4 linked regions of the Homo sapiens genome follow. The protein of the gene in region 2 purifies or fractionates together with the protein of the main gene of each other region. This does not show direct contact. Each region holds a gene or a part of one and is shown on either strand. Other genes may lie near its edges.

Evidence for each region.
Region 1: the proteins of PFDN1 (region 2) and PFDN5 purify together in Homo sapiens (affinity purification with mass spectrometry; 7 studies listed by BioGRID and IntAct, with this or other methods). This does not show direct contact.
Region 3: the proteins of PFDN1 (region 2) and TYMS purify together in Homo sapiens (co-immunoprecipitation; 2 studies listed by BioGRID and IntAct, with this or other methods). This does not show direct contact.
Region 4: the proteins of PFDN1 (region 2) and VBP1 purify together in Homo sapiens (affinity purification with mass spectrometry; 5 studies listed by BioGRID and IntAct, with this or other methods). This does not show direct contact.

Annotation. Positions count from the first base shown.
Region 1 is NC_000012.12:53,291,006-53,298,543, reverse strand, and holds the start of PFDN5 (prefoldin subunit 5), read right to left. Parts: upstream 3,003-7,538; 5' UTR 2,977-3,002; coding exon 2,905-2,976; intron 2,706-2,904; coding exon 2,603-2,705; intron 2,301-2,602; coding exon 2,269-2,300; intron 695-2,268; coding exon 620-694; intron 500-619; coding exon 394-499; intron 1-393. Other genes in the region: ESPL1 (separin), read right to left, coding at 5,070-5,271, 5,574-5,738, 5,887-5,970, 6,151-6,266, 6,456-6,560, 6,684-6,854. UniProt on the Homo sapiens protein: Binds specifically to cytosolic chaperonin (c-CPN) and transfers target proteins to it. Binds to nascent polypeptide chain and promotes folding in an environment in which there are many competing pathways for nonnative proteins.
Region 2 is NC_000005.10:140,279,080-140,286,103, forward strand, and holds part of PFDN1 (prefoldin subunit 1), read right to left. Parts: intron 2,455-7,024; coding exon 2,370-2,454; intron 1-2,369. UniProt on the Homo sapiens protein: Binds specifically to cytosolic chaperonin (c-CPN) and transfers target proteins to it. Binds to nascent polypeptide chain and promotes folding in an environment in which there are many competing pathways for nonnative proteins.
Region 3 is NC_000018.10:653,607-660,658, reverse strand, and holds the start of TYMS (thymidylate synthase), read right to left. Parts: upstream 3,007-7,052; 5' UTR 2,917-3,006; coding exon 2,712-2,916; exon of another isoform or gene 2,368-2,711; intron 1,019-2,367; coding exon 945-1,018; intron 1-944. UniProt on the Homo sapiens protein: Catalyzes the reductive methylation of 2'-deoxyuridine 5'-monophosphate (dUMP) to thymidine 5'-monophosphate (dTMP), using the cosubstrate, 5,10- methylenetetrahydrofolate (CH2H4folate) as a 1-carbon donor and reductant and contributes to the de novo mitochondrial thymidylate biosynthesis pathway.
Region 4 is NC_000023.11:155,212,576-155,219,466, forward strand, and holds the start of VBP1 (prefoldin subunit 3), read left to right. Parts: upstream 1-3,907; coding exon 3,908-4,000; intron 4,001-6,891. UniProt on the Homo sapiens protein: Binds specifically to cytosolic chaperonin (c-CPN) and transfers target proteins to it. Binds to nascent polypeptide chain and promotes folding in an environment in which there are many competing pathways for nonnative proteins.

The sequences.
Region 1 (7,538 bases), on a different chromosome or scaffold from region 2:
ACTTCCAAGTTGATTTAGTCAATCTGGAATGGGCCCAAGCTTTCTTTTTAAACTTCCTGAGTGATTCTCATGTGCAGTCGGGGTTATAATTGCTGGTATTTAGTTCGTTTGGATCATGATTCCTTCCTGTGTGTTCATCTCATTCCCCCATTCCATCGTCATTAAATAGGAGCTCCACCAAAGCACAAACATGATTTCCTTCCTCTAAATTTCTCAAACGCTCAACCCAGGAATCTACAGATAGTGATTATGCAATACACAGATTCTAAAGATGCCAAAGAGAAACTAAGACATAGTTTTACTCCAGCAAAGGGGACACCCCCGTGGTTCACACTGCAATCCATGTTCCTTATTATGGAGATAGGGTCAAGAGGTGCCCCAGGAAAAACTTACCCTGTTTCATGGCGTGCTTCTCCTGAAGAGCTGGTTGGATTTTCTCCATCTGCTTGGTTAGAAAATCTATCTTCCTCTTGAAGAAGTCCTTGGCATCCTCAGCTGTCTACAAGATCAGAGGTGAATAAGGGGCTAAAAGGAGACTCCCTCTGGCCATGCTGCGCTCTAGAGCTTCCCCTGAATTTCCCTTCCCTGTTTAGAGGGGCATCCACATGCTCTCACTCACCTTCTCTACATAGTACCCAGTTCCCACATCGATGAGCACGTGTTCCACATCATGCAGCTTCCCAGGGACATACATCTGAGAAGCAAGAATTAAGGGAAAAACTAGCCAGCCCAGCATGAGCCATGATTCCGCCAGCCAGCCTGCTTGGCCTCCAAAGACCCTCTTTTTCCAAAAAGCTACAAGGCATAAGGACTGAATAATCTGGAGGCCTTAGAACAATACCTATAACTCCAAATGGAAAGAAGACAGAGAAGTTGGTTCTTTAAGGAGAAAATGATGTATGCTGGAACACCCTCTTGTCCTGCCTCATCCCATCTCTCACTCTCTAAGCAGTTCTTGCAATTCTTCCCATTAGCCCCTCCAGAAAGACTAGACATGTTTTCCTACTGTTGTAGAGTACTACAAGTAAAAAGCCAGCCTCATTTCCCTTAATGCCCTCAATCATGAAGTAGCTAATTCCTGACAAAGTCAATGTTTTGTTTGTTTTTTGCTTTCTGAGACAGAGTCTCGCTCTATCGCCCAGGTTGGAGTGCAATTGCCCGCTATCGGCTCACTGCAACCTCTGCCTCTCGGGTTAAAGCAATTCTCCTGTCTCAGTCGCCGGAGTAGCTGGGATTACAAGCATGTGCCACCACGCCTGGCTAATTTTTGTATATTTAGTAAAGACAGGGTTTCACCATGTTGGCCAGACCGATCTCTAACTCCTGACCTCAGGTGATCTGCCAGCCTTGGCCTCCCAAAGTGCTGGGATTACAGGCGTGAACCACTGTGCCTGGCTAATTTTTTTTTTTAAACCATTCCCTACTACACACTACTATTCCTGTGTTCCTTTTAGCCTGTCAGTTCTGAGACTACAGATTAAAGATGCCCTACTGCCATAACTTGCTCATTCAAATAAAACACTGAACAAGTGAACACAATCCAGGTTTCTTAGTGACAGTTTAGAAATGAGCCACAATTAAGCTGAAGTTGAAGATTAACAGAGCCAAGCTCCCTGTTTCTATATCCTCCTATTTTTGTCTATTGCCTGTATCTTCTAAGATATTAGCAAAGTGTAAACCACCAGCTTTATCTCCATATTAATGTTCTCAAACAGCAAAGGGAAATATTACATCTCAACTATACATACTCCTTGGTGTTCACAAGACATTAGCTGGATGTTGGTGTGAAGTCAGATAAAAGAGCTACAAAGTGTGTAATAAGAGTATTCTTGGCCGGGGGCAGTGGCTCACGCCTGTAATGTAATCCTAGCACTTTGGGAGGCCGAGGCAGGCGGATCACGAGGTCAGGAGTTCGAGACTAGCCTGGCCAATATGGTGAAACCCCCAACTCTACTATTAATACAAAAATTAGCCGGTCGTGGTGGCGCGTACCTAAAGTCCCAGCTACTCGGGAGACTGAGGCAGAAGAATCTCTTGAACTCGGGAGGCGGAGGTTGCAGTAAGCCAAGATCTCACCATTGCGCTCCAGCCTGGGCGACAGAGCGAAATTCCGTCTCAAAAAAGAAAGAAAAAAAAAAAGGGTATCCTCAAAATCATTGTGAGGAGAGGGTAATCTGAAGTAATCAAAACAATCCCCCTCCCCGCTTTTTGGGGGAGTGAAGGAGAAAGGGAGAAGGCAGCAGGTAGCCGTTCCTGTGGAAAGGATACAGAACTCGTCAGTGGGACGAGTAATTCTTTCCCTGTGAAAGCAATGAAGACAAACACCTGGGGAAGGTTAGCGGCTCCAACGTAAGACGTTAAAGAGAGTTCCAACAGGGCACAGCACCCACAGACAGTGTGAAAAGAACGGAAACAGGGGCAATAGGAGCAGAGGAATGTCCTGTACTTTTCAATTCTAGGCAGGCAACATGCAAAGGGTTCATGAAGCGGTATACGATATGTAATGGATTTTCTCGTTTCAGGTAAGAAAAACTGGGTTAGGAGGTGGGACGAGAGAAGCAGGTTCGCCACTTTAGGTTACCCTCACCCGCCTACCCCATACCCTCGTTGCTCTTGTTCAGCACGTTCAGACAGTCCTTGGCTTCCACATACTTGGTCTGTACCACTTTGAGCTGAGCAATGGACGTGGACAAGAACTCCACTTCCTACAGAGGACCGGGATAGCGGGTCAATGAGAGGACTAAGGGGAGAAAGGAGCGCGGCCGGGGAGGGGGCAGGTCCTGGGATCGGATAGAGGTTTCGCCTGGGAAAGGTAGGCTGCCAACTTGGAACCGGGCGCGAGAAGTACGCGTGGGCAAGGGGGATGTAGAGCAGGAAAGAGGTGCCTCTGGGGCCCGTCCCCACCTGGTCCAGCTGGTTCTTGAGCATTTCTAGCTGCGGCAGATTCAGCTCCGTGATGTTAATAGACTGCGCCATGTTGGGAAGGCCGACTTAACGAAGAGGAAGTCTCTCGGCGAGCAACGCTCTAGCCGTCCTCTGCGCGTCTCGGTGGCGCCGGGAGGCCTCGCTGCGCCAGACAGCTCTATGATCCTCCGTCCCGGAAGGGAAGGAGGGGCTTGAGCCTCTCAGAGACTGTTGTGTGAGTTCATTTCATAAAATGTCTTAAGCCTAGTATTGTAAAGTAGCAGCAAACAGGACTCCTGCCTACAAGGAACTGCAAAATCTTAAAGTTCTCACGACACAACCACGATATTACAAAGTAGTGTATGCTACTCCACGTGGGTGGTATAAGCTACTGGAAAGCAGGCTGGATTGCCATGGCGACGGCTCGGGGGCCTGGCCCTGCTCCTCTCCACCCCGCTTGCTATTGCTGCCTGCTGGTACCCCGCCAGGCCCGATTTCAAATGTTCCTCCCAGCACGGCATGGAAATGGCAGGGAAATTCTAAACTCTTTTTCCCAGATGGCCTCTGAGGCCGAAAGGCAGGAAAAAAAAAAAAATCCCTTGTCAGACCGTTCTGAATTGTCCTTGGAAAAAAACAGGCATTAGATTGAAAGCTTGTCGAAGGCAGGAACCAACCATGTTCTCATCACTGAACCAATTCTTCCCCTCTCGCTATAACCATCTTCCCCCAGCCGGAAGTAGGCTGACACGTAGTAGGATCTGAAAAAGGGTTTATCACCCGTTGCCAGTGAGGTGGTGGGAGAACAGCAAGGAAGCGCCATTGTCAACCAAGTACAGCACAAATTAATCAATAAAATATTTTGGCCGGGCATGGTGGCTCACGCCTGCAATCCCAGCACTTTGGGAGGCCGAGAAGGACAGATTGCTTGAGCCCAGGAGTTTGAGACCAGCTTGGGCAACACGGCGACACCCCGTCTCCACAAAAAATACAAAAATTAGCCGGGCTGGTGGCACACGCCTGTAGTCCCAGCTACATGGGAGGCTGAGGTGGGAGGATCGCTTGAGCTGGAGAGTTGAGGCTGCAGTAGGCTGTGATTGTGCACACTAGCAACAGAGCTAGACTCTGTCTCAAAAAAAAAAAGGTTTTACCATGTGCTGTATGTGAGGGATACGTGAGAGTGTAAGATACTTGCTTCCCTTGAGCTTAACAATTGGAGAGAAAAACCACACTAGAACTCCACAGATCCACAGACTCTACTGCTAAAGTTACACATTGGTAAGTGTAACAGGTGTACATGGGCAGACAGCAGTAGCCTTTAACATCTACTTAGGAGGCAGGCAGGGCAACTGAGGCATTAAAACTAGTGCCATGGCTGGGCGCGGTGGCTCACGCCTGTAATCCCAGCACTTTGGGAGGCTGAGGAGGGTGGATCACAAGGTCAGGAGTTCGAGACCAGCCTGGCCAATATGGTGAAACCCTGTCTCTACTAAAAATGCAAAAATTAGTGGGACGTGGCGGCATGTGCCTGTAGTTCCAGCTACTCAGGAGGCTGAGGCAGGAGAATCGCTTGAACCCAGCAGGCAGAGGTTGCAGTGAGCCGAGATTGCGCCACTGCACTCCAGCATGGGCAACAGAGCAAGACTCTGTCTCAAAAAAAAACAAAAACAAAAAACAAAACACTAGTGCCACTCCAAAGATACCTGCGGCAGGAAGACAGGACGGACGGATGGTACCTGGCCAAAACACTCTCAAAGGGTCTATCACTACCCTTCCTTGGGCCTGTCTCTACTTAGCATTTTGATGCCCCTTTCTCCTCCAGATTTGTCTGCTGAGGCCCAGCCAGGCCCAGCAGGCTTTGTCCTGTGTCTTTGCCTTTCTTCCCCAAGCACTCAAACTTGATCTGCTGTAACCTGTTCCTGTCAGCTTACAGTACCACATAGTAGGAAGGGGGCAGTCATGCCGTGTCTTTAAATGTTCTCAGATAAACTACGCAAAACAGGGTTTAAATGATGTATCTTTATTATACTGAGGTTAAATCAAAAGGAAATGTTTCATATAAAACACTGGGGAAAATCACTTTAAAAGAGTTATCCTAAGGATTAAATCTAACCTTGGAGGTAGAACAGTTATGAGGCTTCTAGCATCAATAAGACAGCTCCATGGGGTTACCGCAGAGAGACAGGCAAGCCATAGGCTATAGGTGCAGCCCCAATAAGATACTTGAGTCGGGGAGCTTGGCGGGCCTGGTTTACATAGTAGAGAAGGGGGGCCCCTGGGCCTGCTCCAAGCCAGCCTTGCAGCAGAGCTTCCGTGTAGCGGTCAATGTCGCGGTCAGTCACATCCCAGAGATTACCCAGAAACAAGGGGCTGGGAAAAGAAAAGGAGGAAATACAAAGTAAGGGCTCTAAAACAGAATACATAGGAAAACACCATTGGTGGTGGGGGTGGGTGAGTGGAGAGGATTGAACCAATGAGAAACTCCTTTGGCCCTTGGTTACAAGAGAAGAACAGAAGGGAGCTAAGGGTTAATGGTCCAGGCATGCCAGGGAACTAACTAGGATAGGAGGAAAATGGGGCACAAGAGAGGCAAGATTCAGACCTGGGAAAGAACCTGGGGTGAGGGCAGGAGTCCTAATGCCCTAGGATGGGTCTTGCCCTTGGAGACTCACCAACCAGCCATGATGTACTTGAGCACGATGCCAGCCCCCTCCAGGTTTCCACGCACAGCCAGGGCCGCACTGCTACAGCCAAACAGCAGGGCCACTGCCCGACAGCTCAGCCGCAGGACAGCCTGCCCATCAAGGAAGCGGGCACCAGCCCCATGCCCTGCATAGCTAAGGCAGAAGGAGGTGAGATGAGTCTTGAGCTAGTAATACCTGGCCTCTGCCTGTGTCTTCAGAGGCTCTCAAGTCCCAAAGCAACCCATGGTGATACCATCCTCAGGACTGCCCCTCTCCCCACATCCCTGCCTTAAGCACTCACATATACAAATCATGCTTTGTCAGGGCTTCCTGCACCTGTTCAGGTCTTGGCACCTCCCCAACCACTCCTCTCCAGCCAGCTTCACTGCAGGGAAAAGGCAGGTGTGAGAATAGGGAAATGCATGGCAGGGGTCAGGTGGCAAAGACAGCAGAGGGATCATTAGATAGAAGGTGGGCTGCAACAGCTGTTTCTGGAGAAAAGGCTTGTTGCCCCTGTATGTTGTCTACCCTTCCCCACACGTCTTCTTGTCTTCGCGCCCCTGACCTGCTGAAATTGGCTCGAAATTGCTCCTCTGTGCTTGACAGGTTATTGTGAGGGTTCAGGACATAGAAGGTACTTCGTGGATCCACCCCTTGACTCAGCACTGGCGAGGCCCCATACTGAGGAGGAGACACTGGCGATTAGGATGCTTGTCTCACCAAGAGGCCCAAGCTCTAACAATCTCAGCCCCTTTCCATGTCTGAGCCATTCCTAGGACCCTCTCCTATCTTCTCAGGTTTCTCTGCCCTTCTTTGTTGACGTCTTCCCCAGTCGCCAGTCATCCCCAGACACTACGCCCTGAACCCCACCTCTTTGATGATGGAGTAGCTGAGTAGGAAGCGGAAGGAGGGCAGCCGGGTGACAGGCAGTGCTTGGAGGCTGGGCATGCTTTCCCACGGCAGCTTCTGCAAGTCCTGGGCAAAAAGCACTAAGAGGTTACTGTCCCCAGCCAGGTATATGCAGAAGTCAGAAGGGGCATGGGGATGAGTTGGTATTCACTCCCCACTAGACACTGCCCCTCTGCCCCAGCTCCTTACCTTGTCTAGGACCAAGACAAGGTGGCTATTGCTTGGTACTGTCAGGCCCTGTAGACGTCCTACTGCCTCATTCAGGAGCTCCTGGGCTCGCTCTGGCTGGGTTGGGCACAGCCCGTAGGCCAGGGCCTGAATGTCCTGAGGGGTGAGGGCACCGGCACCACTGAGCATGATCTGCAGGGAAACAGTGGTGGTGAGCACCATCTTCATTCATGATAGCTGCTGGGAAAGGATTAAGTCCAGTTTCTTCCCTTTCCCTGTTTTCTTTTTTTTTTGACAGAGTCTTGCTCTGTCGCCCAGGCTGGAGTGCAGTGGCGCAATCTCAGCTCACTGCAACCTCCACCTCCCAGGTTCAAGCGATTCTCCTGCCTCAGCCTCCTGAGTAGCTCGGACTACAGGCATGTGCCACCAAGCCCAGCTAATTTTTGTATTTTTAGTAGAGATGGGGTTTCACCCTGTTGGCCAGGATGGTCTTCACCTCTTGACCTTGTGACCCACCTGCCTCGGCCTCCCAAAGTGCTGGGATTATAGGCGTAAGCCAAGGGGCCTATCCTTTTTTTTTTTTTTGAGATGGAGTCTCACTCTGTCACCCAGGCTGGAGTGCGGCGATCTCAGCTCACTGCAACCTCCGCCTCCCAGGTTCAAGCAATTCTCCTGCTACAGCCTCCCGAGAAGCTGGAATTACAGGTGCCTGCCACCATGCCCAGCTAATTTTTGTATTTTCGTAGAGACAGGGTTTCACCATGTTGGCCAGGCTGGTCTCGAGCTCCTGAGCTCAAGCAATCCATCTGCCTTGGCCTCCCAAAGTGCTGGGATTACAGGTGCAAGCCACTGGGCCTGGCCCCCTTCCCTGCTTTC
Region 2 (7,024 bases):
AAATGATGGAAAACAGTATATATAGCATAATTCCTATTTTAAAAAAAGGTTGTGTATATATATGCATGTATGAATGTCTTGATATAAATATAGAAGTTTGGAATGATACAGAAACCGTAGAGGTGACATTTGGATGTACCGAGGGTGGAAAAACAAAGTAATATTTTCATTGTTTAATCATTTGTTTTATATTTTATTTATGGTGTACTTCTATTGCTTTTATAATGTAAGTAACATGTAAAATGAAAAATTAAAAAAGAAAAAAGAACTTCCTAAAAGATAAAACATTCTACCAGTATTTGAGACACTCAACAAAAGGAAACTTGCAGAAAGTAAATTTCTTAATATTCACCAGAACTCAGCAGTACGGTATTGATAAAATCATCACCTGTGGCAATTTCACCTTGATAATTGGGGTTTTTGTGTTTTTTTTTTTCCCTAAAGAGACAAGGTCTTGTTATGTTGCGCAGGCTGGAATGCCTCAGGCAATCCTCCCGCTTCAGCCTCCCGTAGCTGGGACTACAAGCATTTGCCACTGTGCCCACTCTGCTAATTTTTTAATCATGAAAGTTAACAACAAAAAAAGTTAATGTATACTTGTTATAATTTATTATTACAGAGATTGTAAGAAAAAAATCAAGGCCAGGCGCAGTGGCCTATGATTCCCAGCACTTGGGAGGCCGAGGCAGGCAGATCATCTGAGGTCGGGAGTTCGAGACCAGCCTGACCAACAAGGAGAAATCCCATCTCTACTAAAAACACAAAATTAGCAGGGCGTGGTGGCGCATGCCTGTAATCCCAGCTACTTGGGAAGCTGAGACAGGAGAATCGCTTGAAGCCAGGAGGCGGAGGTAGCAGTGAGCCGAGATCACACCATTGCACTTCAGCCTGGGCAACAAGAGCGAAACTCCGTCTCAAAAAAAAAAAAAAAAAACAAAAAAAGAAAAGAAAAGAAAAGAAAGAAAGAAAAAGAAAAAATCATTTATCCCTACGTCCCATCTAATTTCTTTAGGGTAAACAGTATTAACAATTTAATATATATCCTTACATATCATCTTCAATATTCATACACAAATGTTTGTTTTTTGTTTTCATAAAGAGAATTATATACATATTACCTTGCTACTTATTATTCATTAGGATAATTTTAAATATATTTACCTACAGTTGCAAAAATGCATTTTGTTTTATCTACATGAAATGATTCTGTTTGGGTTTTTAAAGATACTTTTGTTTCTTATGAGTGAAAACACAGATATCAAACTGAACCTCTTAGAACAGTTGAGCTGATTAAAATGTTAAAATAGGACACAACAACAATCTGGTTATCACAGGCTGTTTTTTCTTTACTTGGTTTTTTTGCTTTTTTGTCTTGTTTTTACAATACACTTTTCTAAGCTGCAAATCTATTATCAAGTTTGTTTCAACTATCAGTAGTTAAAAATAAGCCTAAGTAACCTAAGATACTGCATACTCCCAGGCCAGGCCAATTCAGTGCCCCTAAGAAATCCTCAGGAGGCTACAAGTTGTAGCTCCCAAATTCAGCAGAGGGCTGAGTTAGATTCTGATCCTCTGCCTCAAATAGTACTTACAGAAATTAGATGAAATGACCTATGAAGTCAATGTATCCACCCACATGTTGGGAAATCTTGGTCCCTAAGAAATAACCAGCTTTTTGTCCAGTCTAACTTTTACTATACACAGGATGGGCCTTTCACCAAAGCCCAAGAAGAATATCTCACTAAAGGTCTTAATGTATAAATAAATTATAATAATAAAAATAATAAAGTAATATTTCCAAAGATTTGCTTACTGTTACCTATCATCTTTTTCCCTAGCTAAAAAGAAAAAATTGTTCTCATTGGAGCACCATCCTTCAGATAGTTAATTGGTTATAGCTTGCTACTTTGTCCTTATATAGAACCTAATTTAGGTTAAAGAAATTACAATGTGTAAAAAAGACCCTATACCAAGATCCTCTAAAATTTATCATTATTACCCACTCTCCTGCCCATCCACCACAATCCACTACACAAGTGTTGTTTAAATATACATTACATTTTGTTTATGGTTTTGTTTTTTTTAAAGAATAAACACATTCAAGGGCAATGAACAAAATACATTCAGGTTAAAACCATCTCATCAAAATTCTCTGCAGTTCCAAAGAAGAGACTATTCTTTTTTTTTTGTTTTGGTCTTATATGCGCTATGAATATGAATATGACAGCTTCACGGCTCCAACGTAATTATAGAAAATAAAAATAATATGACATTACTTTGGCAGGCAGGCATACATTTTCATTTAATATGACACAATAAGATTACTACTTTCTCCCAAAAGTTAACTCCTATTGCCAATAAAAACTTACTTCTAGTTCTTTAATTTTTTCTTCTGCTATTTTCTGCTTCTCTAACAGCTGACTGTGAATTGCTTCCTTGGACTGAAGAATAAACCTATGAAACACAAGAAAGTTGAAAATTAAGCCACATGACTATTGAATTCATCGAAATCAATAGCTACATACTACAAATATTAAACTGAGCAAATTAAAAGGACAAATGCATATTAACATAATACGTCAAGCTCAGGAAACCACCAGAAGTTTAAACCTTCTTGGCTGAGAAGGAATAAAGGCTTAAAAGTAGATTCTGCTTTCTTATTTAATATAGGAATCAGGCAGGGAACAGTGGTGTGGGCCTACAGTCCCAGATACTCAGGAGGCTGAGGTGGGAGGATTGTTTGAGCCCAGGTGTCTGAGTCTAGTCTGGGCAACATAGCAAGACCCTGTCTCATTAAAAAAAAAAGCGGGGGGGTTGCGGGAGTTGGGCACAGTGGCTCACACCTGTAATCCCAGCACTCTGAGAGGCCGAGGCAGGAGGACTGCTTGAGCCTGGGAGTTCAAGACTAGCCCAGGCAACATGATGAGACCCATCTCTACAAAAAATAAATTTAAAATATTAGTCAGGCACAGTGGCACACGCCTGTAGTCCCAGCTACTAGGGAGGCTGAGGTGGGAGGATCAATTGAGACTGAGATATCAAAGCTGTAGTGAGCCATGATTGTGCTACTGCACTCCAGCTTGGGTAACAGAGCAAGATCCTGTCTTAAAAACATTAAAAAAAAAAAAAAAAAGAAAAGAAAATCAGGCTTCAAGTAGATTCATATGTAAAAGAAAAAATAATAAAGGAATAAAAATATATCATACGCTAAGAGAAAAGTCAACATACAAACAAATACCCTATAAGTTTTGTTTTTTCAGTTATCTGTTTCAATTTTTATCTAGATATTTTTTAAACTATATTTGTAAAGTGGAGCGCCCCTCCATTTTTTTTTTTTTTTTGTAACAGCAGTAACTCATGACCTTTTAAAGTCACAATCAAGCACTGTGTTAGGATCAATGCATTAGTGTTTATATGAGTTCCTCAAACAAAAAGCACTGTATAAGCCTTAGTATCTTTTATTATTATTTCCAGAGTGTATATAGTACCTCTGAAAAGCTCAAAATGTACAAGTGGAAATTTTCAACTTTTTCCATTTTACATCAGGCACATTATTTACCACTGATGAGGGTGGAAATATGGAGAAGTTTTAAAAATTAACACTGAAACTGTTTTATGACTTTATGTTCACAATTCTTGCTTCAGGGAAAGGAAGAACAAACTTTTATAGCCCCAAGTAAGTGAACTGAAATATTTCCCCTCCACTGGAACCAAGGGAAGACCCCAGTTATGCAAATCTCTTTCAGGACTGTCTAAGGAAGCTAAAATATATTTCAATTTAATATTGCAATTAATTAAGCAAGATTTTTCTTCTCTTTGCACTAACAGAGTTCAGCAACAAAGAACTAAACATCATCTCTTAACAAAAAGTCAAACGAGAAAACACATCAAGGTAGCAACATGCAGTTTCCTCTGCCAACCCCACAAAAACATCATTGTGCCTAGGTGGGTTCTTATCAAGAGAGTCCGTTATTATAGATATAAGACAAGTAAAAACAGACCAAAAAGGGCAATTAGCTATGCCCCAACACCTGGAAGGAAACTGCCTTGTCCCCTCTTCTTCATAACTAAGCCTTACCACACATATTAATAAAATCTGAAGAACTTCTTTTACTCCACTAATTATTAAGCTTATATCCTAATGCGGCCAGCCCAGATAATTTTTTTTTTTGAGACGGAGTCTCGCTCTGTTGCCCAGGCTGGAGTGCAGTGGCATGATCTTGGCTCACTGCAAGCTCCACCTCCCGGGTTCATGCCATTCTCCTGCCTCAGCCTCCCGAGTAGCTGGGACTACAGGCGCCCACCACCACGCCTGGCTAATTTTTTCTATTTTTTAGTAGAGACAGGGTTTCACCATGTTAGCCAGGATGGTCTCGATTTCCTGACCTCGTGATCTGCCCGCCTCGGCCTCCCAAAGTGCTGGGATTACAGGCATGAGCCACCACGCCCAGCCCAGCCCAACTGATGATCTTAGTCTTCAGTAGTAACTTGATTCTTTGTAAAACCTTACTGTATATTTACAGGAAAGAGAGCCCACATTCATGCAAAACAAGGATTAATTCCAGGTCTTTTACTATAGAACCCTTCATGTCTAAAATATTCTTACTGGATCCAAGAGATGGGTGCTATTTCAGATAAGATTATGGTTTACAGAATATTTTTCTCAGAACTAACTCATATTTGTATTTGAAGAGAAGAGTTGTTTTGAACAGTACTAAGTCTCAGTAATGTTATGTAAAAACTATTCTAAAACAAGGTGCAAGAGTCACCAAATTATGTCATGACATGTGTGATTTTACTGAGAAAGTCTTTTAGCCATGGAAATAATTTTTTGAGTAAAATATACATTTTTAAGTAGCACTGATAGCTGGCCAATGAGTACTATTCTCAAATAAAAGGTCATCAGACATCATCTTTATTAGTGTCTGGGAAAATTTCAAAGCTAAGATTAGAGGTCAAGTCATTACTTATGTGGCCTTTAAAAATAAAGTATCTGAACAGATACTAAATCTCTTGAGCAGAAAATAAAATTACTAGAAAGCAAGAACACTCAACAACAAAAACACGTTTTTCCATGACCACATATCCTTTGAGGTAGCTATACTGGACTGTGCCAACTTCAAAGGCCAGAGAGATTCCACCGAAGCTGGCCAACTTACTACTACAAACCTAAGGACATCTCAGCCACGCAAGTTTTAACAAGGATGAATGTTGGGTAAATGCAAATGTCTACCTCAAAGAGTAGTTACACAGTAAAAATTCAAACACAAAAACTTATGGAAAGTTTGGTTTAGTCCTCAATTTAAAAAATGGCAAAGATATATTGTATGAAGACTGGAAAAGGCTCCAAGAAACATCTGATTTCTGAAAAAAAGTCTTTGGAAAACATCTTTCTTATTGTTTAAAAGGGCATTGGATTATCAGATACTATGTGAAGAGAAAGGATTTATCATGATAATATAAGTCTTATCATAAGCAAATATTATGTACACAGTTGCTCAATGTAGAGAATCTCATAGTCATTCTGCCTGATTGTTTATGGAAAGCCAAATAGTAAATAAAGAATTCTGGAGTTCAAAATGTACCAATAAGGAAAAATAAACCATGAAGAGGGAAAGTATTCTCTCATGACAAATAATATGCAGATAACATGCTTAAAATACTCAGGATTATATAACCTGAATTCGAGTTGATGCTTTGCAAAAGGCCTCTTCTTTGACCTGGAAATCAGTGCCACGTGCCTCTGCACTGTCCACTCTCAAGGACTTGTAACCTGCTATTTCACTTCCTCATTTATTTGTAATTATGCCATCTGAAAACATAATTCTGAGACTTTCGGTTTTGATTATTTGAGAAACATCAGACTCCGTTTTCTAAATCATCCTGCAGTTTGGTACAACTTCCACTTTCTTATAACTCAGTATGAATCAAAACCATTGTTCACCTGCCCAAAACACAATCCCAGATCACTTGCACTGCTGCATTTTGGACACAATTTCCAAAGTATGGTCACCTAGACATATGCTATTCAGAAACAACAAAATGCTTATGACGAGTTCACTTTGGGTGGGAAATTTTTAGAGGGTGTCTAAAAACGTATCCTATTAGCATTTAGGTTTCAGGGTATTCACAAATTAAGCAGCATAGAAAAGACATAAGAATGAGCCTATCTTCAGGAGAATGGCGTGAACCCGGGAGGTGGAGTTTGCAGTGAGCCGAGATCGCGCCACTGCACTCCAGCCTGGGCAACAGAGCGAGACTCCATCTCAAAAAAAAAAAAAAAAGAATGAGCCTATCTTGCTTCTTTGCCTAACTCCACTGGTGAGGAAAGTTACTGAATTTTTACGTCGTAATTTTTAGCGTGGAAGCAAGTAGAAATAAATTGAACTTCTTTTTTTAAAATTTTTTTAAATTGAATTTATTTCTTACTTTAATCACTTCCTTAGTAAGGAAGTGATTAAAACTTTATGGCACATCCACATTGTGGACTGCTCAGTGAGTTACAGACTTCTGTTATTGGCATAATGAAGAGTAGATACCCTGAACACTCCTGATTAGAAACAAAGGAAAAAAAAATTTTTTTTTAACATTTTGTTGAACTAACACAAAAGGAAGGATTCCACAAAGGTCCAAAGTGAAGTGAAACTGGGAATTCAGGAATGTAAGACAGCAGTAAATTGGCTTTCATCCTGAGAGTTTATGCTGAATCCTGGAGACCTTAAGTATCCACACTGGCACAGAAATAGGATACAAAACAGGAGATAAAACCAAGGGGGCAGCCAGGCATAATGGCATGCACCTGTAGTCCTAGCTACTCAGAAAGCTGAGGTGTGAGGATTGCTTAAATCCAAGAGTTCAAGTCCAGCCCAGGCAACATAGCAATGCCCCATGTCTAAAAAATAAATAAATTTTTTTAAAAAAGAATGACTAATTAAATAAAAAACCAAACCGAAATTTAAAAAAAAATATTTTTTTTATTGACATGTAAAGATGTCAATATAGTAAGTTAGTAAGTAAGTAAAAA
Region 3 (7,052 bases), on a different chromosome or scaffold from region 2:
CCTCTGGAAGGGGTTCACCTTGTTACTGAAGAGACTCTTCTAGAATTTATATGAACATGGGAACACAGGTGGTATCTACATTTAGTGATCAATATATGTTGACTCCTACTATGTGGCAGGCTGTGTTTGAGGCCCTGGCGATACAACAGTGAACACGAGAAACAAATCCTCTGCCCTCATAAAGCTTACAGCACATTTCACTTTTACTACCTGCTGTCCCCCTTCTAACAGGGGAAGGGAAAGGCTGACATACATCAGATGGTGATGTTCGTCTATGGAGAAACACCAAGGAGGTTGGGGGAGAGTCACAGTTTTAAATCAGGAGGTCTAGGAAGGCTTGCCCGAGTGGAGTAGAGACTCAAAGGAAGAAGCCAAGTGTGGGGGAAGAAGGTTCCAGGGAGTGGGGATGTCCCGGTGTGCTCAAAAACTCACAAGAACAGCAGGGCTGGTGCAGAGAGCAGCAGCTAAGGTCAGAGCTGAAAAACGGACACCATAAGGACCGTGGCTCTTACTGAGTGAAATGGAGCCACTAAGGGCTTGAGGGTGAGGAATGATATGCTTTGACCTTTGGTGGTGTCTTTTTTTGTTTTTGACATGGGTTCTCCCTCTGTCGCCCAGGCTGGAGTACAGTGCCACGATCTCAGCTCACTACAACCTCCGCCTCGTGAGCAATTCTCATGCCTCAGCCTCCTGAGTAGCTAGGATTACAGACATGCACCAGCACACCTGGCTAATTTTTTGTGTTATTAGTAGAGACTGGGGTGTCGCCATGTTGGCCAGGCTGGTCTCAAATTCCTAACCTCAGGTGATCTGACTCAGCCTCCCAAAGTGGTGGGATTACAGGCGTGAGCCACCACACCTGGCTGCTTTGAGTTTTGAAAGGATCTCACTGGCTGCTGTGTTGAGAACAGACTACTGACTTCTAATAGCAGCGACTTCTTTACCTTGATAAACCACAGCAACTCCTCCAAAACACCCTTCCAGAACACACGTTTGGTTGTCAGCAGAGGGAATTCATCTGAAAAACAATTTGCCATACGGTTTCAAGATGGGAAGACAGATCATGCCATCCAACTTTCTTCAGGGAAGAAAACTGCCCTGGGACGTGAGGCCCTGGAGCATCCAGAAAGCCTAGACTCCCGCAAAGTGGGCCAGAGATCACGGTGGAGCTCCCAGGCTGCAAGTCCCATCAGTGGCCCGATTCAGGCTGAGACAGCACTTCTGTGCCCCGGTGACCAGTGGACACAGGAATTCCACACAGTGAGATGGTGGCGAGGGCAGGGATGAACATGTGGCAAAAGGGAGGAGCTATCATCCACTGCCCACTAGTGCTAATCCTGTCACAAAGGTGTGAAGACAACACCAAGCATGTGTCCCAGGAACAAAAAGGGAGGCATCAGAAGTGTCGAGCCACAGAGAAATGAAAGTGTAAAAACTTATCTTTAAATGCAGTCCTCGTTCATCCGCACTCGCTTGTGGTACAGTTTATATTCAGACAACAGAGAGATTTTTGCAAGCACCTGCTTTTATCAGAATTGCCTACTAAGCATTATTTTCTCCATTTTTAACATATAGGGAAGCTATATGAGAAGTAACTTGCTCAATGTCTAAGCAGAAAGGTGGGTTAAAAATGAGGTCTATGGCTCATCAAAGGCCCCTGGGCTTGGAGCTGCAGAAAAGTGGATCCCTCTCCTCAGACAAAACTCCCCACGCTGTCCCACGCCAATCAGCCACAGCAGCTGCTATGTATTCGTCTCTAGATGGGTCCGTGGGCCGGAGGGCTTTTCCGCTAGCTACAGTGAATCTGCTTCACCACGAATGGGTTTCCCCATTCAAAACCACCTCCACCCCTGTGTCAAGGCTGCGCTCCATTTATCTGAGCGGTCAAGGTCAGCCCCTGGCTCACACACCTTCGAGTCCCCTCCCCCGCGCAGCTGGCGCAGGATCCAGGACGGCAGGACGGTGTGGCCTTAGGGAGGGCCAACGGCTGCCTAACGTCCTGTGCCCACCCCGCCCCGCCCCACTGTCCCCTGAAAGCCTGGCGCCAATGACCCGCGAGACATTTTTTGCCTGGGGTGCTCCTGTCGGAAAGGAAAGAGGAAAGGACGACTAAGAACTTATACTCGAACTCCCGAATTTCTCTTTTCAAGGTTTAAGAGGAAAGCTGGTTCGTGGGGATTGGATGGGAGGCCACCAGGAAACCAAGTTCCCGCGCCAGCTTCAGTGCTCTCCTCTTCCCGCCGCCTTTGCCCCGCCCACATCACTTTCGCTCCAGTTTTTGAAAACGCTGCGAAGCGGAATGGTCCACAGGGGAAAACGGAGGAGGGGCCAAAGCCAGGACTTTGAGACCGGCGCGCGGTCAAGCCCAGGCAGCTCTCCCTAACCCTCCAGCACTGGGCAAACGCTGCCCGATGACGCCCGCCTCGGGGGCCACGGCATCACTGGGGCGACTGCGAGCCCGGCCGCGGAGCCGCTGGGACGCGGCTTACCTCCCGGCTGTCGCTGCTGTGTGTGTTGCCCGCGCCAGTCACGTCCCTAATGGGACCCTCCGTTTCGGCGTCTGTAAGGCGAGGAGGACGATGCGTCCCCTCCCTCGCAGGATTGAGGTTAGGACTAAACGGGGTCCGCAGCGCCCGGCAGCTCCCGAGCGCTCTCCCCAGCCGCGCCTCCCTCCTTCCCGCCACCCGTCCCGCAGGGGCCCGCGGCGTCACCTCTCAGGCTGTAGCGCGCCTGCATGCCGAATACCGACAGGGTGCCGGTGCCCGTGCGGTCGTCCTTCCTGACGCCGCAGCGGAGGATGTGTTGGATCTGCCCCAGGTACTGCAGCTCCCCGTGCGGCGGACGCGGCTCGGCGTCCCGCTCCTGTGCGGCGGGGGGCAAGGGCCGGCGCGGCAGCTCCGAGCCGGCCACAGGCATGGCGCGGCGGGCGGGGGACGGAGGCAGGCGAAGTGGCGCGGCGGGACGGAGGCAGGCCAAGTGGCGCGGCGGGACGGAGGCAGGCCAAGTGGCGCGGTGGCAGGACCCCTTCCGCGCGCCTTTTCCCGCGGCCGTCCCGCGCTCCGCCTCTTCCTGCTCGGCGGGGTCGCGGCGGCCCCCGCTCTAGAGAGCGTGCGCCAGGGGGAAACGCAGGAGCCACGGGTGTGGCACAGAACGGAGCCCAGGGCCACAGCTGAGAGTCTTAGGAAACCCGGGAACCTGGATGCAGGTGCGGTGGCTGGGAAGGACTGCGCCCTTTGGGAACCGTCTGGTCGACCGCGCCTTCTCTAAGCCAGCAGCACAGTTCCCACGTTTTCCTGCGGTCTTGTCAACAAAACTGCTGTTTGAGATCTGTTTCCTACAACTAATAAGGGATTTGCATTTCCATTTCTTCGTTCTCACTGAAGCAACCGAAGCAAGTGGTATAATGCAGCTTTTCTACTTGATTAAAAACCGCCAGGGCGCTGGACGCGGTGGCTCACGCCTGTAATCCTAGTACTTTGGGGGGCCGAGGCGGGTGGATCACCTGAGGTCAGGAGTTCAAGACCAGCCTGGACAACATGGTGAAACCCCCGTCTCTACTAAAAGTACAAAAATTAGCTGGGCGTGGTGGCTACTTGGGAGGCTGAGGCAGAAGAATTGCTTGAACCTGGGAGGCAGAGGTTGCAGTGAGCCAAGATCCGACCATTGTACTCCAGCCTGGGCGACAGAGCAAGACTGTCCCAAAAAAAAAAAAAAAAAAAAAAAAAAGACCGCCAGGGCTTTTCCGAGGTTTTTTGTTTGAGCCCTGGCGGTCTTTTTTTTTTTTTTTTGAGACAGAGTCTCGCTCTCTCACCCAGGCTGGAGTGCAATGGTGCGATCTCGGCTCACTGCAACCTCCGCCTCCTGGGTTCAAGCAATTCTGCTGCCTCAGCCTCTCGCGTAGCTGGGACTACAGGCGCCGCCACCACGCCCGGCTAATTTTTTTTTTTCATGTTTAGTAGAGACGGGGTTTCGCCATGTTAGCCAGGCTGGTCTCAAACTCCTGACCTCAGGTGATCCACCCACATTGGCCTCCCAAAGTGCTGGGATTACAGGCGTGAGCCACCGCACTCGGCCCCAAGTTTTTAATAGACCACATTTCCCAGTTTTACTGAATTGTTTATAACATTAACACTGGGGAGTGGGAACTGTTGATGAAAAGAGTTAAACTCTGTAAAATATCTGAAGAAATTTATTCTGAGCCAAATATGAGTGACCAATGGCCGGTGATAGAGCCCTCAGCAGATCCTGAGAACATGTCCCCAAGGTGGTTGGGCTACAACTTGATTTTTTATACATTTGGTTGAAAGAATTGTTATCTAAAGATCTGGAATCAATAGAGGGCTGGGCGCGGTGGCTCACGCCTGTAATCCCAGCACTTGGGAGGTCGAGGCGGGCAGATCACGAGGTCAGGAGATTGAGACCATCCTGGCCAACATAGTGAAACCCTCTCTACTGAAAATACAAAAATTAGTGGGGCGAGGTGGCACACGCCTGTAACCCCAGGTACTCAGGAGGCTGAGGTAGGAGAATCGCTTGAACCCAGGAGGCGGAGGTTGCTTGCAGTAGCTGAGAAAGCGCCACTGCACTCCAGTCTGGGTGACAGAGCCGTATGGGGAAAAAAAAAAAAAAGATTTGAATGAATAGAAAGGAATATCTGGGTTAAGATAAGGGGTTGTGGAGACCATGGATTCATCATGCAGATTAAACCTCCAGGTAGCAGGCTTTAGAGAGATAGATTGTAAATGTTTCTTGTCAGACTTAAAGAGTGTGTTCTACCTGTCTTGAGGCCTGTGTTGATGTCAATGCTGGTCAGCTGTGCCTAAATTCCAAACGGAGGAGGGAATAATGAGGCATGTCTGGCTCCCCTTCCCATCATGGCCTGAACTAGTTTTTGTGGTTAAATTTGGAATGCCTTTGACCCAGAGGAGTGGTCTTTTCAGATGGTTCTGGGCGTAGAATTTTATTTTTGGTTTACAGAACGATTTTATAATGAGTTTAAAATGCACTGATACATGTGTTGTACTTGCAAGCATCCTTTTACCTCAACGGTTGATTGAGTACAGAGGTGCTCTCAGCATTTTGGGTGGGACTTTTCTTAGCTGGACCGGTTTGTTCTGCACATTGCAGGGCTTTAGCAGGACTGTGGAAAGCCAACCATATGTTGGCATTCCCCCACCCCACACCAGCTGAAAACTGTCCCTACACGTTTCCCTACACGTTTCCGAGCACGAGGAAGATCCCAGGCTGAAAATATTCCAGATTATCCAGATGCACGTTATCTGTGTTTAATTTCCTTGTGTTATTCTTTTTCCTTTTTTTTTTTTTTTTTTTTTTTTGAGGTGGAATCTTGCTCTGTCCCTCAGGCTGCAGTGCAGTGGTGCTCAGCTCACTGCAAACTCCGCTGCATGGGTTCAAGCAATTCTGCCTCAGCCTCCCAAGTAGCTGGAACTATAGGCGCCTGCCACCATGCCCAGCTAATTTTTTTTTCTTTTTTTTTTTTTTTGCATTTTTAGGAGAGACAGGGTTTCACCATGTTGGTCAGGCTTGTCTCAGACTTCTGATCTGAAGTGATCTGCCCACCTCGGCCTCCCAAAGTGCTGGGATTAAAGGCGTGAGCCACCATGCCCAGCCTTACTTGTGTTATTTTTTAAAAACCTGATACATAATAATTGTGAGGTAGACAGGGCTTGACTCTGGAGGCAGGGCTCTGACATGGGACCAAATTGAGGAGTAGTCAAAACAAGGATGGGGCAGAAGTAGTTTTCCATAAGACGTGCCCACCAGTGTGCCATGTCAGTTTACGATTGTCATGGCAACATCCAGAGCTTACTGCCCCTTTCCATGGCAGTGAGCCGACAACCGGAAGTTACCACCCTTTTTCTAGACATTTCTGCATAATCTGCCCCTTAATTTGCATGTAATTGAAAGTAGGTTATAAATATCACTGCAGACCTGCCTTTAAGCTACTGCTGTCAGCACACTGCCTATAGGGTAGCTCTGCTCTACAGGGGCACTCAGGGAGCTGTTGCCATATCAGTAGAGCTTTTCTTCTACCAGGTAGCTCTTAAATTCTTTCCTGAGCAAAACCAAGAACCCTCCTGAGCTAAGCCCAATTCTGGGCTCACCTGCCCTGCATCAGTTGCACATCCTTGTGTGTTTTTTTTCTTTCTTTCTTTTTTTCTTTTCGACGGAGTCTCGCTCTGTCACCCAGGCTGGAGTGCAGTGGCAGAATCTCAGCTCACTGCAACCTCTGCCTCCCAGGCTCAAGCAATTCTCCTGCCTCAGCCTCCCGAGTAACTGGGATTACAGGCACCCATCACCATGCCCAGCTAGTTTTTGTATTTTTAGTAGAGATGGAGGTTCACCATGTTAGCCAGGCTGGTCTCGAACTCCTCACCTGAAGTAATCTGCCTGCCTCGAGCCTCCCAAAGTGCTGGGATACAGGCGTGAGCCACTGCACCCGGCCCCTTGTGTTATTTTGAGGCTGGTTTATTTGTTTCACCCAAATACCAGCTAAATCACATCTCAAGACTAGGCTCCTCTGCCCACATGGAGCTTCCACTTCTGCTGCCTTCCTTGAGTATCTTGGCTTGATAGTAAAGACAGAATGGTTCTTTTCAAAGTAGTTACTCCATAAATGTTGGTTAGAATGAATGGTTCTCTCAGACAAATTTCATTCATTCATTCATTAACACACATTTATATCATGGTGCCTTCCTCATGTCTACAAACAGCAAGACAGACAAGGCCCTTTTCTTCATAGAACTGATATTCTGGCAGTGACAAACACTACAAAAGTAACCAAACAAGACATCTGCAGATAGTGACAAGTGTGATGATAGTAAATTAATGGGTATAGCACTAAACAGTGATTGTGTAGAGGGTGCTTTAGATCTGATCACCAGGAGGCCTCATTGAGGAAGTCACATTTGAGCTGAGACCTGAATACTGGGAAGAAACCAGCAGGGGAAGATCTGGGGAAAGAACATTCCAATCAGCAGGTGCATTTATACCAGTAGGTGCCACAGTGCTTGCATCTATAAAAACATCCC
Region 4 (6,891 bases), on a different chromosome or scaffold from region 2:
AGTCCAAAGCTCACATTTCACATGTGAGGACACTGAGCTAGATAGGTGAAGACACTTGTCTAATGAGGCACAGCCTGTTAAATGACAGGGTTAAACTAGAACCCAAGTTCTAGGGCCTATTACACAGTGGCAAGCCTAGAAATGGATTCTGGAAATAAAGCAGGGTAATGTCTGGGAGTCCCCAGGGCCATCATTCTGGCAGATGAGGTGGTGGGGTGGGGGTTGCAGAAGGGTTAGTTCCCTGAACAAAGGACCTCTCCACATCACCTTGGATAAATAACATCAGTCCCAGGAAAAAGGAAATCACATTGCCACATTTTACCTTGTCTAGGAAAATCCTACCTTGTCCTCTCTTGTATAAACAGAGCAAAAACACTGAAGATACAATAACAATACACAGTGAGAACACTACCAGCACACTCAACAACCCAGGGTAGTGAGTATGGAGGCCCATTGGCATGTCTGGAAATAGAATACACATGTATTCTGACTTACTAGGAAATAGCCCCAAGAGGCTGGGGTGGCTTAGCATGCAGGAGCACTATCACAGTTGAGTGCCCTCCAGGGGAGTTCCAAAGCCCCTAGGGGAAACTGCACTTTCTGCTCTCAGAAGTCAGGATTAGAAACTGAATCAGAAGGTCGAGCAGAGGCTGTCTCAGAACATCCTGAAATGCTTGGCATCTCTCTGAAGGCCTTGGGCTCTTTCCCAGTGGGCTTCCTGGGAGGAAATGACCCCAGTGACCAGGCTCAGGAAAAAGGAGACACATTCCCCCAGCCTCAGGATTTGCAGCTCTTCAGAGTAATTTCAGAGGCTTGTGGAGATTGGGACAGAACCTGTTACCTGCACAAAGCTTCCAGGCAAAGATGGAGTGAGAGTTGTTGTCGGTTCCCGGCTGTACAAATTTAAGTCAACTCTTGGTTATCTGGGTTCTGGAAGTTGCTAAGGATATCACCCTCTTCTTCCAGGGGACTCCAATTGTATGTCACATCATTTTCTTCCTTCTCTGCAGAGCACATTAGTGTGACATTTACAGGTACTATTCACTGAAGTCATTAAACTCTGGCTTCCCAAAATATGAGCCAGTGGTGCACCAGAGCTGGCTTGTACCAGCTTGTGAGAACCAATTGTTAAATTTCTAGAAATTCTGCAAGATGGTTGTTAAACACAGCCATCATTTAAAATTAAATTATAAAAATTTACAATTAAATTCTTTTAAAGGCAAAGGTAATAAATATTCAAAATTTATCACCTTCTAATTATTTTTCGACATTTGAATGTTACCTATGCTCTTGAGGTTATTTACATCGATTGTATCTGTGTGCTACTGGGCATGTCCTCCCAACTCGACATGGATTGAAATCAGCCATTGTGGGAGTATCCAGGCTACAGAAATTGGTAGATGCTACAAACTACGGCTTGATCTATGTTTGTCACTCTAGACTTGAAAGCAATGGAGAAAATGTTACTAATGCAGATTCAGCTTAAAAGTGAGTTGTGTCTGTAGCCATTATTGTGAACAGCACCATAAAATGAGGCAATATTTTTCTGGTATTTGAAAACCATTATCCAATTCAGCAAATAAATCACTCACATTGTTGATGAATGATCCAAGTACCAATATAAAAATAATTGTTGAATTACTTTTTTCTTATTACTTAACATAAATGAAAATATCAAGCAACATTCATGTCAGAACTACACTAGTTCATCAATTGCAACTGTAGGTTGTCTAGGGAGATATGTATTTGGCAAAAATCAAAAGCATCCTGTCAGAATTGGTTATACAGAATTAACGATAAAGAGTATTGTATATTTTATTATCACTTATGAAATTGTGTGCTATACACCTTTTACATCAATACAATTTATAATAAATATATACCCCCTTTCTAAAGAGAATTAGTTGAACATTTATCAGCACAACACTACGTGAAATGATTGTTTAAGTTGTTCTGTTTCCTGTTGTATGCGTATTTTCTTTACATTTTGTTTTGTTTTGTTTCAAAAGTGTCCATGGTGAAAAACTACAACCTTTTAAAGTCTGTTTTAAAAAATGCTTTTATTAAAGCAATCTAAAGATAAGCTGTAAAAGGTGTGGGCTACTGAAGGGTTGCTAAAGACCAATCATATTTAGTCAGGTAATAGCTAGATTTGGATCTGGCAAGAGGAAGGTTTTTTTTTTTTTCTTTTCCTTTTTTTTTTTGCTAAGAGATAAGAAAATGACCACCTATAGAGTTGATAAGGTTAGTGTACTCTTGGAAAAGCTGCTGCAGCCATGGCAGGAAGGAAAGAATTGGTATACAACTTTCTAATTAAGAGAACACTAGAAAGGAAATATATTCAGCAGTATAAATAAGGGAATCTTCTGTTTGTACCTGTAAGGGAGTAAAACATGAGCGATAAGCTGATAAGGCTTTTGGCTCCAAAAGAAAAACCTGGCCCGAAGTGTCAAATACTATATCTCTTAGAGGGATTTATTCCAAATTAAAATTAGTGATAATTTGGAGAAATATTTCCTAAAGTTTGAAGTAAGTCCTTGATTGGTTCTAACAATGATTAATATAGATAGGGATCAGTGAAGTTGAACAAAATTTGCATGTGTATCTGATATCTCAATGTTTTTCTGTAGAAACGTTACCTACTTTTCAAAAACAAAATTTTTTTTTGGAAGGCACTGAGGTGGGGGAGAGTGGTGAAGAATAGAATTCCCATATACTTTTCTCTCCAGGAACAGAGACATTATCTTACAAAACTGCTGACCAGAAAAGGTCAGAGTCATGGTTAGCTAACATGTCTTCATCCTCCCAAGCCAAATCGCATAGAAGCCACTGGAGAACTAGTTTGGAATTCCGGCTTCACTACTATGTAGTTGTAGGATTTTGGAGGAGCTGTACAGGTTCACTGAGCTTTAGTTTCCTCATTCACAATATGACGATACCAATTTCTTCCTCATATTATATCTAAAGACATATCTATGTCTATATGCTTGATCGTACATTATGTGCGGAGATAAACCGGTAACAGTGATTGCCTCTGAGAAGAGAGACTTACTTTCCATTGCGTAATTCTTAGGCTCATGGTAGAATTTGTGCAAGTGGATGAAGCACTGCCTCACTGGGAAACACTCCAGTGAAATAAAGCACAGAAAAGAGCCCGAAGAATAATTACTTGGTTCTGTATGACACATGTGCTTTTAAAGGGTTGTAGTGTAGGATGACATTGGGTAAGTCCATGGGCCTAGAAGCCTAGGTGGAGTTCTTAGGATTTTGTATGTAGACTATGAAGTTTTGGAAACGTTTGAGCTGGAGAGAAGACATTCTGATCAAAGGTGGCTTTCAGGAAAGGCTGGTGCGACAGGCAGGGTATTTATTAGAATGAGGCCAGTGACCACTCTGAAACAGACACAAAGTAAGTTCCCTTCAAGGGGCAGGAAGCTCCCTGGGATGGTGAGACCAGAAAGGCACAGAGGCTGAACCCTCGTGATGGCGCTAGGTCCCAGGTTCGCTAGCATCCGAGAGAGGGGATTGGGTCGCTCCAGAGGCCATTGCGAAGGCTGCTGCCAGTTCTAGGGTCGGGGTGGGGTCAGGCTAGGTCCCTATTCCTAGGGCTTTAGCACCGCTCACTCACAAGACCCCTTTTCCCAGGAGGACGTATGGGTTTTTCCTGTCGCTCCAGCTTCTCTTTCGCGGCCCTTCCACGCTTGTCACTTACCTGAGCGCAGCCAATCAGCACCTAGAGGTTGGGCTACTTTCGGCCAAAGGAGAACGGGGACTTGTGGGGGACGCTCCCTGCGCACCAATGAATGTGCATGGAGATGGAGAGGCGGGCCTGCAAGTGCGAACAAGCCAATCACGGAATCCCGGCGGCCGGCGGCCCGGGAGGCAGTCGCGCGCTCGCATCCCCAAGATGGCGGCCGTTAAGGACAGTTGTGGCAAAGGAGAAATGGCCACAGGGAATGGGCGGCGGCTCCACCTGGGGATTCCTGAGGCCGTGTTTGTGGTAAGAGGCACGCTGTTCCCTGGCATCTTGGCTTGAGGCCTTGGACTGCCCCTTTCTTCCCGGCTCCCACCCAGGCCTCGACTGTTGGAAGGAGCTGAGCCAAGTGTTCAGGGAGGGGGCGCTCGGTCTGCTCTCACCCCTCGCACCTGGACAGATTGAGCTCTGCTGGGGGCCCGCCCGGAAGAAACGTAGCTCGAGAAGGCCGTAGAAGAGAACGGGGTGCGGGGCCGGGACGAGGGGCGAGGGGCGAGGGGCGGCGGGTGGCAGGGCAGGGCGGCCTGAGGGACCTCCGGGCTGCCGCCGGTTTTCGTCCCCCTGCTGGTTGGAAAAGGGGAGGTGGTGAGGAGCTCTCGACTCAGCATGGATGCTGGAGACACAGTACAATGAATAGGCAGAACAGCCAGTGCTAAGATGTGAAAACCGGGAATATCACTTTGTCTGTTGAAGGAATGCAGTGGTCTCGGGAATGTTGCCTCGGGAAATGGAAGAAGAGACCGATGGGAAAATAGGATGATAGGTTGGGAGTGTAAAGTCCTTCTGTGTCTTGCTAAGGAATTGAGGTTTTCCAGTAGGCAACGGGCTGTCATCAGAAGGCCTTTCGTTTTAACTACATCATTCTAACAACTTAGTGGAGAATGAATTGTTGAGAGAGGAGGCTGAACCCTCCTGATGGCGCTAGGTCCCAGGTTCGCTAGTGTCCTAGAGGGGATCGGGTTGCTCCACAGGCCGTTCTGGAGGGCGCTGCCTGTGCTGGGTGGCTTTTTAAAAATTTTATTTTATTTATTTAATTTAGAAATAGTAGTTGAAAACTATTTGACTAATGAGAGAAAACATCTGACTGGCCCTCCAGGCCAGGTCATCTGTCTGTCCCCACTTAGCTACTATAAAATCTTCATGGAAGTTTCTCAATCTTTTGGTTTGTACCTTACCTTACCTCTGCCTTTTTTTTACTAACTACGTCTTATATCCTTCTAAAGACTCATTTATTTATACCACACTTGATATTGTATATTCGCATTTGCTGATTGAATTTCGTAATTGGTTATTATTTTGTGTTTTTATGAGCTGTGTCATTTATTTCTCTACATTGATCTATTATCTAACCATAACAAGGAATAAAATTTGTTGAGTGCCAGGCACTTTCTTAATGATTTTACAAAACTCGAGGTGGTAGCTACTACTGTTATGCCCGTTTTTTAGATGATAAAACTGAGGTACGGGGCACTTGAGTAACTTGCCCCAGGCCACACAGGATGTAAGTGAGGTATCCAGGGTTTGAACTTGGACAATCCGTGGAGGTCCAGACTGGCAGCTTACCCCTCATGCTCTGCTACTGGGAGGAGGTGAGGTAGTTCTCATGAATCGCCCTACTTCTCCTGGTCATAGCATAGTGCCTCACACATAGTATAAGCTCAAACTAAGTGTCTAATTGAATTTCCATAGGGCCTTAAATGTTACATTCATGGTGCTCAGCTAGAGATGGCGTCAGAAATCTAACTCGGGAGGAGACACTTTATCTGAGGGCTTTATAATGTCTTGAAATGCTTTTTCCCTACAATGTCGTGGTTATTTTTTTCTAGACCTTAAAATTTCTACCAACATAATGTAATAAGCAACCCAAATTTTATATAACTGTTTATGTTTCCAAACTATTAATAATTGAAGTGACATGGTATTGTAGAAAGATTATTGGCCTCTAAATAGACCAGGGTCTGAATCCTGGCTCTGCTTCCCAGTTGCTGCTTAACCTTAAGCATATTATTTTACCACTTTGAGCTTGAGTTTCTTTAACTGAAATAGGGATGACAATACTTAGAGAGTTGTTATGGGAAACAGAGAACATGCTTGCAGTATTGCAGTGTAGTAGGTGTCGAATAGGTATTAATATTCATGATGATAGGAAGCAATATACCATAGTGGTTAGAAGTCAGACCCAGTCCATTCCCCAACCCCGCTGAGGCAGTAATTTGTTTTCTTTCTCTGCTTGAATTGTTGTTTCACCCTTGTCCATTTCATGACCTCTTCATCTTTCCACATCTAGTTCAGATATCATCTCCCTGTAGTTTTCTCTGACCTCTACCCCAAAACAAAATCCCTGGCACTTTGTGTCCCTGTGGCACATTATGCTATACATAGGTGTCACGTACTCTTATAAGCGTTTCACATATGCTAACTCATTTAATCCCTGGTGACGAAAAGGTACTTGTACAGATGATGAGGAAATTGAGGCAAAGAGAGGTTAAATAACTTCCCTAAGGTCAACTCATCTAATGAGTGGCGAAGCTGGGATTCAAACCAGGCACCTCCTGTCTCTTAACCACAGCCTATGCCGCTATAGTTAATTCTTGCTAAACTCCAGCACCTGATAACATGTATCATGTGCCAGAAACTTACACTTCTTTCTCTTCCCTGCAGTGACCCTTCTAGGAAGATGGCATCTCTCTTTAACATACAGAACTCAGCCATTATCTCTCAGCCTCACCTTTTCAATTTCCTTTACTGTCTAGTTTGATGGCTTCTTAGTTCACTCCCTTGCTGTGTTTCTCTTCCTTTTTCTTCCTTGTTTCAGCTAAGATATTCTCTGGTAGCTAGTAAATATGGATAAGAATAATGATGTGAAGATCTTAGAAGCTATAAGATAATTGAAGTTACTTATAATAAAGAACTAGAGTTCTGTAAAGTACTAGACGACTCTTGTAGCATCTCTTTTAAGTTTCATATATTTTCATCTTGTTTCTGATCCTTATCTAATTAACTAGCCTTTCTTCAAGGATCAGCATGTGGTATAAAAAATATTTTAACATCAGTTTTACTGCTTTTCTTTTGATCAGTTATTACTGTTACAAAAGATTATTCTGTTTGCCTTTTAGGTTTACTTTGTTTCAGTTATT